2 linked regions of the Homo sapiens genome follow. The protein of the gene in region 1 interacts with the protein of each later gene in a pairwise test. Each region holds a gene or a part of one and is shown in the gene's direction. Other genes may lie near its edges.

Evidence for each region.
Region 2: the proteins of KIF1A (region 1) and RETREG1 interact in a two-hybrid assay, tested with the Homo sapiens proteins (one study listed by IntAct).

The regions. Positions count from the first base shown.
Region 1 is NC_000002.12:240,810,073-240,817,340, reverse strand, and holds part of KIF1A (kinesin-like protein KIF1A), read left to right. Parts: intron 1-7,268.
Region 2 is NC_000005.10:16,613,852-16,621,849, reverse strand, and holds the start of RETREG1 (reticulophagy regulator 1), read left to right. Parts: upstream 1-4,852; 5' UTR 4,853-4,878; coding exon 4,879-5,198; intron 5,199-5,363; exon of another isoform or gene 5,364-5,924; intron 5,925-7,998. UniProt on the Homo sapiens protein: Endoplasmic reticulum (ER)-anchored autophagy regulator which mediates ER delivery into lysosomes through sequestration into autophagosomes.

The DNA.
Region 1 (7,268 bases):
AGGGACTCAAGGTGTCACCTCCCACTGCCCATCACCCACTCCATGCCCAGGAGCGTCTCTGAGAACCATGGGGGGCTGGGCCACACCCTGCCCCGAACCTGTCCATGGGTGGCCAGGGTACCCAGGGACACAGCCAGGCAGCGTTGGGCCTGCGTCCTTGCCGGCTTCTGCCCCTTAGGTGGTGGCCTCCGGCCATAGGCCCATCCCTGCTACAGGAGGGTTTGGGATCCCAGAGCTTTGCATCCCAGTCCTTTGGCATGGCACCTGGGCAGAGGCAGGGGCACAGTGGCCCCACCTGACGAAGCCAGCTTGCTCTTTAGCTCCTGAGCCCCACTGGGATCCCCACCCTCAGCCTGGCTGGCCTCTCGCCACCCCAGTGCCCCCACCCCCAGGGCCTCAAGAACCCAGGGAACAGCTGGCTGGGCTTGGCCCACGTGCTGCAGTTGGGGGTGCTGTGGGGCAGAGGGCACAGTCAAGGTCAGCAGCAGGTGGAGACTGAGCCTCCTGACCTCTCCTGCTCCTTGCCAGCCCATCCTGCCAGCTTTGGCCTCCTGCAGGCCTAGTGCATTGTAGAGATTGATCCGGATGTGTGGATATGGGACTTGGATGTGGGACTCAGAGGCTGGGGTTGCCGGAATGAGTAGGAGGGGCTGCTGCCTCTCTAAAGCCTCCTCACCCTGGATTTAATCTCCTAATCCCAGGCCTTGTGGTCTGGGCAGGCCCAGCCCTGGCTGCCACAGAGCCTGGGGATTCAGATGACCTTTGGGGGTCCCTCCTGCTTGCCATCCCTGCCAGATTTCAGGACGCCTTGGGGTATAGGGAGGGCAGGCCAGTGCCTGGCTCTCCAGGCATCCTCGTGCTTATTCCTCACCCCTCCCCACAGTGCCCTGGAGGGGTCCAGAGCAGTCACCCGGCCACACACACTCATAGTCACATGCATCCACTCGAACACACACAGATCCACATGCATATACACATACACACACATTGCACACACACTGACACACACATGCACGCACACCCACCCATGCATACATTCACACACACAGACACTCATACACACACATGCATGCTCATGCACACTCACATACCCACACATACATTCACATACAAACACACATACACACATGCTTATGCACGCATGCATACACACATGCATGCATGCAGATAGACACACACACACACACACACTCTGCATCCCTTGTCCCTGTCTTTGTTCTTGCCTGGGTTTCTTCTCAATACTTTCTACTCAACCTCCACATTAGGTTTTAGGTCCCCCTCAAATGCTGCCTCTGCCATGATGCCTGCTGTCACCCCTACCCCTCAGATTGGCACCCCCTCCACAACCATAGGTTTCCAGGGGTGGGGAAGAAGACAGAGAACACTGGTCATAGCCTGCACTGTGCACCTCATGTGCTTCCCTTTATCCCATGCCACTCCACACCTGAACAATGAGAACAGCACCGCTTGGCTCGGACCCCACTGAGCCAGGTGGTGGTGTTCCCATTTTCCAGGTATGGAGACTGAGGCTCCTGAGAAGCCCATGTGGCTTGTAAAGTGAGGACCTGGGACTCCGAGGATGGTAGCTCCTTTAGTGCTTTCTGCTCATCCCTCCACTTTCTCCTCCACCCCCATTACCCCCCACTTCTCCCACCCCCACGGGGGCCAGCACGGTGCCTCACACAGAGTGAAGACTCAGTCAGTGCTCTTCCATGGCTGAGCCGGTTGTTCTAGCCCAGGTACCGCATTTTCTGGTAGAGTCCAGGTTGAGCTTTGGCCACCCTCTCAGGGGTTGGGGTGTCTTTGGGTCTCAGTGTCTCTTGTTCAGAACCTATGGATTCCTGAGCCTGGCTTAGGAATGACAGGCACCCCCTTCCCTCTGGGCCTCCCGTGGGGCTCCTGAAATGCAGCTCTAGGGACAGGCATGGCCCCGGACTGCTCCTGCAGGGCCCCTTCCCTGAGGCTGGTAGTGCCAGGAATGCCCTCAAGGGGTTCCTGCCCCCACCTCAGCCCTGCCAGAAAGGCCCACCTGAGGGTGGGCCTCAGTTTCCTTCTCCATCTGTCATCAGCTCAAGCCAGGATGGTGCAGGACAGGGCTGGGCAGTCAATGCTCAAGGTCATGGGTCGGTGTGGCTCCTGAGGAGCTGCTGTGGGGCTGGGGTGGGACTGTACTCAGTTGCTTGGTGTCATCTGGTCCCCACTCTCCTGCTTCTGGGGCCAGGGCCCCACCATGGGTGCAGGTCCTTGGGGCCTGGGAGGGCTGCAGCTCTAGGACAAGTAGTGGCTGCAGTGGGCTAGGCGCAGACCAGAGGAGCACGCTTACGGCCCCACACCCTTTGCGTCAGCTCTGTACTTAGGCAAGATGTTCTTGGTTGGTGTTTTATTTTCTCCAGCTCTTGGTTATCTTTATTTTATTTCATTTTAGAGACAGGGTCTCACTCTGTCACCCAGGTTGGAGTGCAGTGGTGCAGTCACAGCTCACCACAGCCTCAACCTCCTGGGTTCAAGTGATCCTCCTATCTCAGCCTCCTGAATAGCTGGGACTATGGGCATGTATCACCACACCTGGCTAATTTTTTGTAGACGGGGTTTTGCCATGTTGCCCAGGCAAGTCTTGAATTCCTGGGCTTAAGCAATCCTCCTGCCTCGGCCCCACAAAGTGCTGGGATTTTAGGTATGAGCCACCGCGCCCAGCCTTTTTATTTTCTTGAATGAGTTTTTTCCCTTTTATCGCACCTCCAGAAGTGGCCTCTGGCAGCTGCTTGCCATGTCCCCTGGATTGGAGTTTCTGTTTCTTGGACCCTAGAGCTGCTTGTTTCTTGGTTTCCTGTCTTGTTTTGCTGGAGCACATCCTTGTGTGACTTCCTTGAAAGGGTGCATGAGTCTTTGGTGTGTGAGAGTGTTTTTGCTGTGTCCTTGCTCTGGGTGGTAGTGTCTGGGGTACTTCTGTTCCTAAGTAGCTTTCCTGGGAACTCTAAGGATAGGGTCACCATGGCTTTCTGCATCAGGTCACTTATGAGCAGGCTTTGTTGGCAACTCGTCTTTTCTCCCTGGAAGCTTTTAGGATCCTGTCTTTTCCTTGGTGTTCTAACTTCATGTCGACGGGTGTAAGGATGGGGTTCGCATTTATTGGCACTCGGTGGGCCCTTCACACTGAAGTCAGGGTCTCTACTTCTATTTGTTCGTAATTTCCTCCTTTTCATTTTTTCTTTTACCCTGAATTCATGGGTTGGTCTGTTTGGTTGCTTTTCTCTTGTATATTCTGTCTCCTTGTTTATATTCTAAAGTCCTTTGACTGCCTTTTCTAGGGTTTTTGGAATCTTGTACTTCATCTCTTACATTTTTCATCTCTAAAATCTTCACGTTTCTAAATGTTCTGTCTCATAGCATTCTGCCCTTGTTTTGAAAATGAGCATCTTCTTGAATCTCCCGGGTGCGTGGACAGAGGTTGTGCTCGGTTGTTTCGCGTCTGTTCCATGCTTTGCCTGTCCTTCCCGCAGGGCCTGTTTTCTGCTGGCAGCTCTGGTCCTTCCCTTTCACACTCTGTTCTCACGCCCGAGGAAGGCATTAGTTGGCACATCATGTGTTAGGGAGGCCATTGGCGGGAGCGGCAGGGCTGCTGCTGCTCACCCCGGAGTGGTTCTGACCAGAGCTGGGGTGGGGTGTCCATGGGGGGTGGGGTGTCCATGGCAGGCCCTGGCTTAGGTGAAGGGGTGGGGCTGGCTACCAAGCTGCCCCTGCATATCAGAATGAGGGGTACTGCATTCTTCAGCTCACTGAAGGCTTCACTCCTGCTATGGAGAAAGCCATTCAGCTGCTCACCTGGGGGCACTGGCAGTGACCACCCTCGGAGGGTGGATGGCGGGGCTGGGGGTGCGGGCTTCCATGTTAGCCTCACTTCTCACCCCTGCCTTCCACCAGGTGCCTGAGTTCCCATGCCTGAGCCCCTGCCCCTTCCCTGCCCTCTGCAAGCGGCACTCAGGGCTGAGGTCCCAGGAAACGCCTCTCCCACGCCCTTTGCAGTTGGGGGCTGTGTGGTGGGCTCTGGCCCTATCCCATGGGGTCTCAGAGCAACCAGTGTGCCTGCAGTCATTGGACCTGGGGCTCCTTACTCTCCAGGGGTGGCCAGGACACTCCTCTATGACAATCGGTTGTAATTCTAAGAAAAACCTGCTGTGGTTTTTTTCTCAAACTCTTCAAGAAGGATCAGTGTTTCAGGAAGTGGCCCATGCCGATGCTTTGTTCTGGGCTGGCCCTGCTGGGTGTGCACATGGCGGGCCACTTGTCTAACTGGGAGCAAGTGGATCCTTGAGGTGAAGGCAGATCCCCGAGGTGAAGGCGGATCCCCGAGGTGAAGGCGGATCCCCGAGGTGAAGGTGGATCCTTGAGGTGAAGGCGGATCCCCGAGGTGAAGGCTGATCCCCGAGGTGAAGGCGGATCCCCGAGGTGAAGGCGGATCCCCGAGTGAAGGCTGATCCCCGAGGTGAAGGCAGATCCCCGAGGTGAAGGCTGATCCCTGAGGTGAAGGTGGATCTTGAGGTGAAGGCGGACCCAGAGGTGAAGGCAGATCCCAAGGTGAAGGCGGATCCCCGAGGTGAAGGCGGATCCCTGAGGTGAAGGCTGATCCCTGCCTGAGGTGAAGGTGGATCTCGAGGTGAAGGCTGATCCCTGAGGTGAAGGTGGATCTTGAGGTGAAGGCGGACCCAGAGGTGAAGGCAGATCCCGAGGTGAAGGCAGATCCTGAGGTGAAGGCAGATCCCTGAGGTGAATGTGGATCCCGAGGTGAAGGCAGATGTCTGAGGTGAAGGTGGATCCCCAGGTGAAGGTGGATCCCCAAGGTGAAGGCAGATCCCGAGGTAAAGGCGGGCCCCTGAGGTGAAGGCAGACCCAGAGGTGAAGGGCGTCTGGGCTCCAGGCGGATGCCTGTGCGATGCTCTGCAGCATGGGCCTCTCCAGCAGCTGGGCAGGGAGTGCCTGTGCCAGGCCTGTGTCTGGCCCTCACCGTCACCCCATGCCTGGTCTTTCCTGGACACTCCTCGAGCTGAGGCACGCTTTGTCATCTGCCTTGGTGCCACCCCCAGCCCCCTTCCACAGGGACTTGGCTTTTTCTGCTGATGCCCCCACCCCAGGGTGAGGCAGGAACCTGAAATGGTCCCAGAGCCCCAAAGCAACAGGGGAGTTCCTCCGGGGCCACCCTGCCCTCTGTGCCTGCAGTGACTTGCGGGGCGTGGCCCGGTGCGCCCAGTGGGTTTTCTGCATGCATTTTTACCAAGTGAATGGATTCTGTTCCCCTCTCCTCTGTCCTGGGGCCCCTGGCTCAGGGCTCATGGTCTCCCTTTCCTGGAGTCATCACAGCCGGCTGGCCATACCCACATACCCACATGGATGGCCACCATCCCCCAGCCCTCTTTCCCTCTCCTGCCCTCGGGCCATCTTCTCTGCCCACTTCCTGTGGGTGCATCCTGGGTCTAGTCAGAGCCTCAGACACCCGTGGTGTTGCCTCTATGTCCCCAGCGCAGACCCCACCCTGCCACCACCAGCTTCTCGGCATCTTCTTTGGCTCTGAGCAGTCATCCCAACCCCTCTGGCTTCCTCCCTGCCACCCTTGAGCCTGTGCCCTCATCTCTGGCCACTCCAGCCAGCGTGACCTCACCCCACAGGACCAGTTCATGCTTCTTGTTTCTGATGACTTCCTGCCCCACCTGTCCCAGAGGTGCCCCTCTCTGTCTTTGAGGGGAGCTCACCCTTTCTCCTGGGCTCTGGCATGTGCTGTGTCTGGCACTGTGGACCGCAACCCCCCGCCTTCTCAGGGGTTCAGCTGTGTCAGACCCCCATCCTCAGCTTTGCCTTCTGCCATCAGCCACGCCCATAGGCTCTGGCCACCCTTGGGGCCACGTGGCTCCCTCTCAGGTTGGCTGACAGAACAACTTCTTGAAGATAGTTTCTTTTCTTTTCTTTTCTTCTTTTCTTTTTTTTGAGATGGAGTCTCACGCTGTAGCCCAGGCTGGAGTGCAGTGGCGCAATCTCTACTCACTGCAACCTCTGCTTCCCGGGTTCAAGTGATTCTCCTACCTCAGCCTCCCAAGTAGCTGGGATTATGGGTGCCTGCCACCACGCTGAGCTAATTTTTGTATTTTTAGTAGAGACAGGGTTTCAACATGTTACAAGCCAGGGTGGCCACTAACTCCTGACCTCAAGTGATCTGCCCACCTCGGCCTCCCAAAGTGCTGGGATTACAGGCACGAGCCACTGCACGCGGCCAATAGTTACATCTTTAAAAATTGTGTCATGTGGTAGCAAAAATATACAACAAGGAATACAGAATATTACAACCAACGGCCACATGCCCACATTAGCTTTCAAAATAAGGCATTTCCAACCTGCTCCCCAAGGGTAGCACTGGCAGAGGGCTCACCACCACCCGGCATCTCGGCCGACCCACATCACCCTGGGGAGGAAGACGGACAGATGGGGCCTGGCGGGAAGGAGGTCCTTCCACGTCACCATGGCGGGCACATCGAGTGGCCTTGGTGGCGTCCAGGCCCTTAGACCCCCTCCACGCCCAGCACCATGAATTCGGTGCTGATCGCTCCTGGAGTGTCATCGTCTGCCCTGAGTCTGTGGAGTGCTGCTTGTGTGTTTGAAACTTCGAGGGGCCTGCAGCCGACTCTGCATTCATCTGCATCTTGGATGCTGGGCATTTGGGCTGTCTCCATTCTTTTTGTAATGATAAGTCATTCTGCATTTGGGTGTATTTCTCCCTGTGAATATGTATAGCATCTCTACTTGCAGAGTTGCTGGGGCACAAGGTCTGCAGCCCCTCCAGATGTTACCATGTTATTTTCAAAGTGGTGGCACCCGTTCACTCCCAAGGTGAGCTGTAAAAGCTCCTGTGGCCTCCTTCTGACAGCGTTTGGTGTGCCCTACTTTTAAATGTTGCCATCTGGTGGATACAGTTTGAAAATATGGTTTCCGAATTACTATCGTGGTTGAGTATCTTTTCATGTAAATTGCCAGTTCATATCTTTTTGCCCATTTTCTTCTGTGATTTTTGTAAATTTTTATTTTTATCTGTCCTCTGTGTATTCTGCGTACAAATCCTTCGTTGAATTGTATGTGTTGCAGATACCTTCTCCAGGTGGGTGGGGTTCTCGTCACCGTTTTAGTGATATCTTTTGATACCCAAACTTTCATTTTGGTGTTTTCGGTGGGTTAAGAAATCTTTCCGGCTGGGTGCGGTGGCTCGCACCTGTAATTCCAGCGCTTTG
Region 2 (7,998 bases), on another chromosome or scaffold:
AAGTGCAGATCAATTTTTAAAAATGAAACTTGTCAGCCTCCCTTCCAGACTGGCTCCTTCTCCTCCCTCATTCTAGAGAATGACAAGGGAAAAGTCTCTGAGAGTGCCTTCCCTCTGCCAGGCTTTATATCCTCCATGGTCTGGAGATACCTTTCTAAAACACAGGCTAGCCCCTCTGTGTCCTGCTGCAAGCCCACCCATGGCTCCCTGTTGCTCTCAGGACAAAGCAGAAGCTTCTAGCATCATACAGGAGGAGCCCCACTGTGAGTAGCCTCCTGCTCCTCCCACCCCATCCTCCAGCTTAGATCTCCTCCAGGTTTCCAACCAGGGCCAGGCTGGCTCCTCTCCTGCTTCCAGACTGTGCACACCATGCTTCCCCATTCCCTTTGCCCAGCGCCTTCTTCAGGGTCTTTATCCATTGTCTATACTCTAAGCACCATGAGAGAAATAAGCAGTCCTGTTCATCTTACCAGAAGCCCACAGTCAGTCTTTCAGGAATGGCTGATGACTAGTGAATGAAGCAATGAAATAATGAGTGAATGATACGCAAGTACAATGATGCAGAACCAGGACCATCAAAGGGGGTGGGGGGAAGAGGTTGCAGCAAGGACCCGACAGTGCTTTGTCTGCTGGTTCAGATTCCTGTTGGGAAGGGGTTGGAAGTTAATGTCCTGCAGTCACCCCTGTGGATCATAGGTGTGCGTGTGTTTGTGTGTGTACCTGGGGATAGACAGGTAGGCTTCCTTGGGGGATATACTCATGTTGTCATGTGACCTCCGTTCTTTTCAGTTAACCATTTTGAAGCCTTAAAAAAAAAACTTCTTTTAGGTATTAGGGAGCAATACCCCAACTGATATCTGGGTGGCCAACATCTTGGCCACCATCTTTCTGGTAAGCACATCCCTTATGGAATGCTTGTCAAACACAGACTATGCTAGTTTGAATATTTCCGTCTGTATATGCACAACAGACATTCAACATAAGTAGAAATAGTGAATTCCTTCTGTGAGCCAGGCACTGGGCTGGGCCTTGGAAGCCAGGTTAGAGACCCGGGAGATGATCTTCCTTCCTTTCCAATTGCTCTGTGCCTGCTGATGCTGTATGATACTCTTATTTATCTGTGCTTAGAGTGAACTATCCAGGTTTTCTTAGTGAGAAGAAAATTATGGAAACTTAGGAATAAGGAGCAGAGGATATAGCAAGGGGAGGAGGGTAGAATTAGTTTAATAAAAGTACCAACACAAAAAAAATTCTATCTGCAGGCTAATAAACGATACAACATATACACAAGTGTATTAGTTCATTCTCATGCTGCTATGAGGAAACACTTGAGAGTGGGTAATTTATAAAGAAAAGAGGTTTAATTGACTCACAGTTCCGCATGGCTGGGAAGGTCTCAGGAAACTTACAATCACGGCGGAAGGCATCTCTTCACAGGGTGGCAGGAGAGAGAATGAGTGCTGAGTGAAGGGAGAAGCCCCCTTATAAAGCCATCAGATCTTGCAAGCACTCAATATCACGAGAACAGCATGGGGGAAACCGCACCCATGATTCAATTACCTACACCTGGTCCCACCCTTGACACGTGGGGATTATTACAATTCAAGGTGAGATGTGGGTGGGGACACAGAGCCAAACCATATCAACGAGCCTCCTTTTGTTTAAGGAATCATGGAGCTACTGTAAGATTCTAATATATAATATTGTAGAGAAAAGAAATTTCCCCAAAATATTATGACTAGGGGGCTTTTCCCCATCATTCTAAGTCTTAGCTTGATTTTGCCCTAGGAGACTTCCTATAGTGGGAATTAATTATTCATAATTTTTCCTCTCCTATTACAAGCTTTCCACATACTCTTAGATGAGAAAAGTGAGTGGCCTCTGTTAGAGAGTTCTTATGTGCATTTGGACTTTCTTTACTGGAGCTGTCTCATTTTCTAAACTCTCATTCAGTAGCTAGAACTTTTTTTTTTCTCAGACACGTTTCCAGTTTCCTTTTCTCAGATATATATTGTCAAATCATCTAGCTCACTAGTGTTAATCACTCTGTTCCTAATATATAGCAATAAAATTTCAGAAGAGAATCTTAGTAAGATTACTTGCAGGAGTTCAAGAATGTGGCGTGTTCTTAAAACTAGGGGACAAGGTTGATTTCAACCATTGTTAGCATTATGTTTCTGTAATCTTAGCCCTGAATAAATTACTCAAGCATCACAAAGATCATTAGACAAACAACAAAACAACAACAAAATCCCACCCAGCAGCACCATTTGTATGTCTATGCCAGTGTCTACTTCTGTCATACAGTTTGTAAGTATTAGAGGTCGGAGGTGAAAAGGAAAGGTTAATTAGCCCAGCCTTTTATGCAAAACAGGTTGCATAGCATTTTCTCCATAGTAATTTTGAGAGAGAGAGAAAGGATAGACTTTACAACACATAGCTGTGGGGAAGGAGGTTTATTATTAAACAGAGATAATAAATAAGTGTTGGAAACCACACACAGCAACTGGAGCTTAGCTTTTATGTGTCTTGGTTGCCAGCAGCTTTTACTACTTCAACAGATCCTGACAACAATAATTAGAATTCAAGGGAAGCAGGAGGAAGGTGATTAATCTTGCAAACCCATTTCTGGTAGCACATCAGCACTGGTCTGGGGAACGGGGACACCTGGTTCTTCCTCTCTCCTGCCCCATGTTCTCCACACTGGCTGCAGCACACATCTGTCTAGTGACAGATTTTAGAATAGCAAACCCTGGGCTGTATCAAGCGCCAAACAAAGGCCAAATGACACAATAAAAGCATCATTTATCTTTCAAAAACTTCTCCGCTACTGCCAAGAGGGAGGACCCACACCTGGGAAAAGATTGTCTCTCTTATATGGAAGAAACCTGAATTGTTTCCACGTTGCTTTTTCCTTGACACCCAGGCCACTTTCCATCGGGTTGTCAGGATACTCCTAAGAAGGGGAGTCGGAAATGCCAGATGTTCTGTATCACCTTTAGTTAAAAACCAAGCCTCCTGTTACTAGAGACCATTCAATGTCCACTATTCCCTTTGGTGAGTTACTTAAGGAACTGTGCGTCTCCACCTGCAACCCCATGCCTCCTCTCCTGTTGAATTCCCAACAGCAGTTATTGCCCCTGTCCCCAATCCCCACACTAATGGGGGCCCTACAATTTAGGGCAGAGGCCATTTATTACAAAACGCTCTTGAAACCTGATCCCTCCACTCCTCCCCTAATTTTGGATGCACAGTTTAAGTAAGGAATCTCTTAGCACTTAGCGAAGGCTTCTTCGCTGTGGCAGATATCACAATTGTAACTGGGCCCTCATCAGACTGGGAGCTTCCTGTGGGTGGAAGCTGCATCCACAGAGCTTAGCAATGCTTTGTGTACTCGGTAGGTGCTCAGTAAGCCTTTGCCTGGGCTCTGGGAATATAACTCCTTTGAAGTACAACATACAAGCAGTAAAGTGCAGACACCTGCAGTGAATGTACAGATCAATGGATTCCACGTGTGTATACACAGAGGTTTACAATGGCCACCCAGAGGAGCGTTACAGAACATTCCCCTAGAGACTCCCTTGACGCAGGGAATTTAATTGCCCTCCCTTCCATCCTGTGCAGGCAGGCTGGTTGCCAGTAAAGGGATATGAGATGCCCTGATGCATCCGCAGACAGAACCCTTAGTATGGGGGGGAAGGACCTGTCATTCTAGAGTAAAAGTAAGACCAGGAAGATTAAAGAAGACAAAAATTTAAAAATGCAAATGGTGAAAAGCATAAACAACTATTTTCCTCTCTCCCCACACTCACCCAGAAGCACCGGGGCCAAAGAGAGGGCATGGGAGGTCTCAGGATCCCCTGCCGCCCCACCACTGCCCTGATGCCCGCTTGTGACGCAGAGACCGGAGTGGCTCTGAAATTACTGTCTTCAAAGCAGGCCAAACCTTGCTTGACACGTGCAAAGTTCCAATCTCTTGCTTCTCAGCTCCCCGCACGCGCGGGCCAACGTGCACTTCTGAGCCAGATCACCTAGCCACAAGGAGGGGGAGAGAGGGGGAGATAGGAGGAGAGAGGGGAAGATAGGGGGAGAGACGGGGGAGAGAGAGGGAGAGGCAGAGAGAGAGAGAGAGACAGAGAAGAGAAAGGAAGCACCTGAGACAGAGAGAAAGAAGAGAGAGAAAGGAAGCAGCTTCCCCCAACGCTGCGGCCTTGTGTTTCCTCCCGTGTCAAACGAGAGGGCCCCAAATTGACCCCAAATGTTTTTTCTTCCTTTCTCAATCCAACATTTATACCAGCACGTTATTTCCAGGATGCCCAGGACCTCTGCTATGGTTGTGCTGCTGTCCCTGCAAAGGCGCTGGGGATGGCCGAGGTGGGGGATGTCTCTGGGGGCTGAAATACGCTGCCAGGGGAAGGGGCGCCCCGATACCACCCTCAGTGGCTGCTGGTTGGGCGACCGGTGGCCCTGGCTTGAGAAAGTGAAAATGTCCAATCTATTTTGCCTGGAGCCTTGGGTCTCTTTTGGATACGGAACCGAGCAGCAGTCCTCCACTTCGCCCTCTCCCGCCGCTGCAAGGGAAAAGGTCGTTTTCCTCGAGTCCCGGAGAGGCCCTCCAGGAACCCAGAGCCCCCCGGGGACACCGCCCAGCTCCCGGCGCCCGGCCCCGCCCCTGCGCGAACTCGGCCGCACCCACTTTCCCGGGCGGCTCCCCCTCCGTGGCCTGTGGCGTCACAAGGCCCCCAGCCGCCTGTGCCCCGCGGTGCGCGCCCCGCTCCGGGACCTGCCGCCACCGCCGCCCCGCCCTCGGCGGCACCCACACCCAGGCGCGCCCGCGCGCGCGCCCGGCCCCGTCCCTGTCTGGAAGCACAGCTGAAGATGGCGAGCCCGGCGCCTCCGGAGCACGCCGAGGAGGGATGCCCGGCTCCTGCCGCCGAGGAGCAGGCGCCGCCGTCGCCGCCACCGCCCCAGGCATCCCCCGCAGAGCGGCAGCAGCAGGAGGAGGAAGCGCAGGAAGCTGGGGCGGCGGAGGGCGCGGGGTTGCAGGTGGAGGAGGCCGCGGGCCGGGCGGCGGCCGCGGTAACCTGGCTGCTCGGGGAGCCGGTGCTGTGGCTGGGCTGCCGCGCCGACGAGCTGCTGAGCTGGAAGAGGCCGCTGCGGAGCCTGCTCGGCTTCGTCGCTGCCAACCTGCTGTTCTGGTGAGAGCTTGGGCAAGGTGGGGGCGCTGAGGAGGGCAGGTGACCTTGGGGCGCCCGGGGCCCCGGGGACCCAGTGCAGGGGGAGCCCGCGGGACACTGCGGAGGAAGAATTGTCAGCCCTGCCCCACTTTCTCGGCCACCTGTCTCGAACAGGTAGACACTCACCGCAACTTTCCTCCGGACGCACGTCCCTGTGAGCAGTTGTCGTTCTCCGTGTGCGGATCCAGCCTCAGATGCGAGGTGGTCGGCCGACCCTCAGGCACCTGCACCTACAGGTGTTCCCATCGTGCTTGAAAACTTCGCCCCTGCTTTCTAAAACTCTGAGGTCTTGACCTGCTCGCCCAAGCTTGCCGGAGCAAACGTGCTTGAACGTGTCTTGGTTCTTGCAGCCCCAGCAGGCATATCTGGACCAGATTAGGTACCCGTTCAAAACGGTGCCGCATTCATCAGTCACCTGAGATGGGCCCTGAATGATTTGTTTTTTCCTTCCCCTGGAGCGTTAGGTTTACTGTGTTTACTCCCTGATGAGAAAACGGGAGGCAAACAAGCAGGTGGAGTATGCCCAGCACCCACCCCCGGGTGTGCACAGTGTGGAAAACAGGCATATTTTTAGGTGAAGTACAGGGAGAACACACGGGAATGCTCAGCCCCTGAGCAACAGGTTTGTCTCTCCAAAAAGCGCTCTTCAGAAAGGCCAGGGAAATGTCTGTCTCCTTCGTTGAAAGTGGTGTCCTGTCATCCGTTACCACGCTATTGAGGGCGGAGAAAAACCTTCTTTGTTTGCTAAGTGTCCTCATAACAAACATGACCTACACAGTGCAGAATAATCAGACTCCGGTAACAGATACCTTGTTACAGGACAGAGATTTCTGAACCTTAAAGTTGAGAAATAAATAAATTGCACAAAATAGACAGCCTGTCATTTTCTAGGTTAACTTGAGCAAGATGAATATTTTCCTCAGATCTCTGCTAGTCCTGGTGTTTTCTCTTAAAACTAGCTGTATCTTGTCGGAGGTCCCTGAAAGTGAATTAACTTTGGATCTCTTAGGTATCTGTGTTTGGAATAGAGTTTATTCCAAATCTATCTTATTATGGAGTGAATGCGAGCACTCAAATAAGAAGGACATATTGTCTTATGCTAGATTGGGCAATAGTCTAATAGTCTTAGGGCTGTGTCTCACTAATGTTTACGATGTTTTTAACATTTTATTTCTTTTTCTTTTCTTTCTTTCTTTCTTTTTTTTTTTTTTTTGAGATGGAGTCTCACTCTGTCGCCCAGGCTGGAGTGCAGTGGCGCGATCTCGGCTCGCTGCAAGCTCTGCCTCCCGGGTTCACGCCATTCTCCTGCCTCAGCCTCCCGAGTAGCTGGGACTACAGGCGCCCGCCACCACGCCTGGCCAGTTTTTTGTATTTTTTTTAGTAGAGACGGGGTTTCACCGTGTTAGCCAGGATGGTCTCGATCTCCTGACCTCGTGATCCGTCCGCCTCGGCCTCCCAAAGTGCTGGGATTACAAGCGTGAGCTACTGCGCCCGGCCTTAACATTTTATTTCTTAATTTTAAATTTTATTTCTTTAAAAAACTAATACAGTCTCACAGTGCAAAAGTTTAAAGGTACAAAAGGGTAAGCATTTTGAAAATCTCTTTCTCATCCCAGTCCCTGGCCGCCCAGTTTCCTCACGGAGGCCAGCAATGTTGCTAGTTTCCTGTGTCTCTTTCCAGATAGTGCACATTTCAGCAAATACACCATATTCTATGCAAATTGTGGAATAACATATGAGCTCTTCCTTTTCCTAGTATTTCTTGGTGATTGCTTCCTTGTTCTTTTTCAGCTGCTTCAGAATTCTATTGTAAGGATGTCTCAAATTACTTAACCTGTCTCCTACTGAGGCAGTAATGTTTCCAAGCTTTTGCTATTTCAGCATTATAGCTAATGACCCTGTACATGCATCATTTTGCATATATGCAAGTATTTTAGAGAACTTCCCAGAAGTGGAATTGCTGGGTCAGAGGGCATGTGCACTTGTAATTTTGATGGCTGTCACCATATTGCATGCAGCTCCTTAGGGTTCTAACAATTTATACTCCCACCAGCAATGTGTATGACTGCCTGCTTTGCCACACTCTTGCGAAGAATATTTTATGAAACTTTTTGATCCTGCAAATCTGATAGGTGAAAAAGACTATCCCAAAATGATTTTATTTTGCAGTTCTCTGTGATTGAGCATTTTATCTTATGTTTAAGAACTACCACATTTACCATTTATCAGCATTGTTTGTTTATAAATAACCTTTGTCTATTTTTTCAAGTAGGCCAGTGTTCTTTTCCTTATTGATTTATAGGAGCTGTTTTTATATTAAAGACTTTAGCCTAATTTCTGTAACATGAGTTGCAAACTTTTTTCTATGATGTTTTCTTTAATGACACCTATTGAAAATAATGTTTTTGCATAAAATAATTGAAAGGCATATTTGATAGTATCCAGGGGTGTTTTCTTCCATCCATTTTATTTATACTGACGGAGAGGAAAACATTGGCCAGCCATTCAGCCTAGATACAGCCTTCTCCTTATCTGTTTTATTTCATCTCCTGTTTGTGGCATCTGCATTCCATGCATGTATTTTCTTTGACAAAAATGACTGTCCTGTTCTTTAAGTTCAGAATTACTTGTTGCTTTTGCATTATAATTCATTGGAATTTATGACCCATTTATTAATGTCATTAAAATTTTGTTTTTTTTTCCCTTTTATTTGTTGCTCTGGGGGTTAAAATGATTTTCAAGGACATTACGTTTTCTTTAA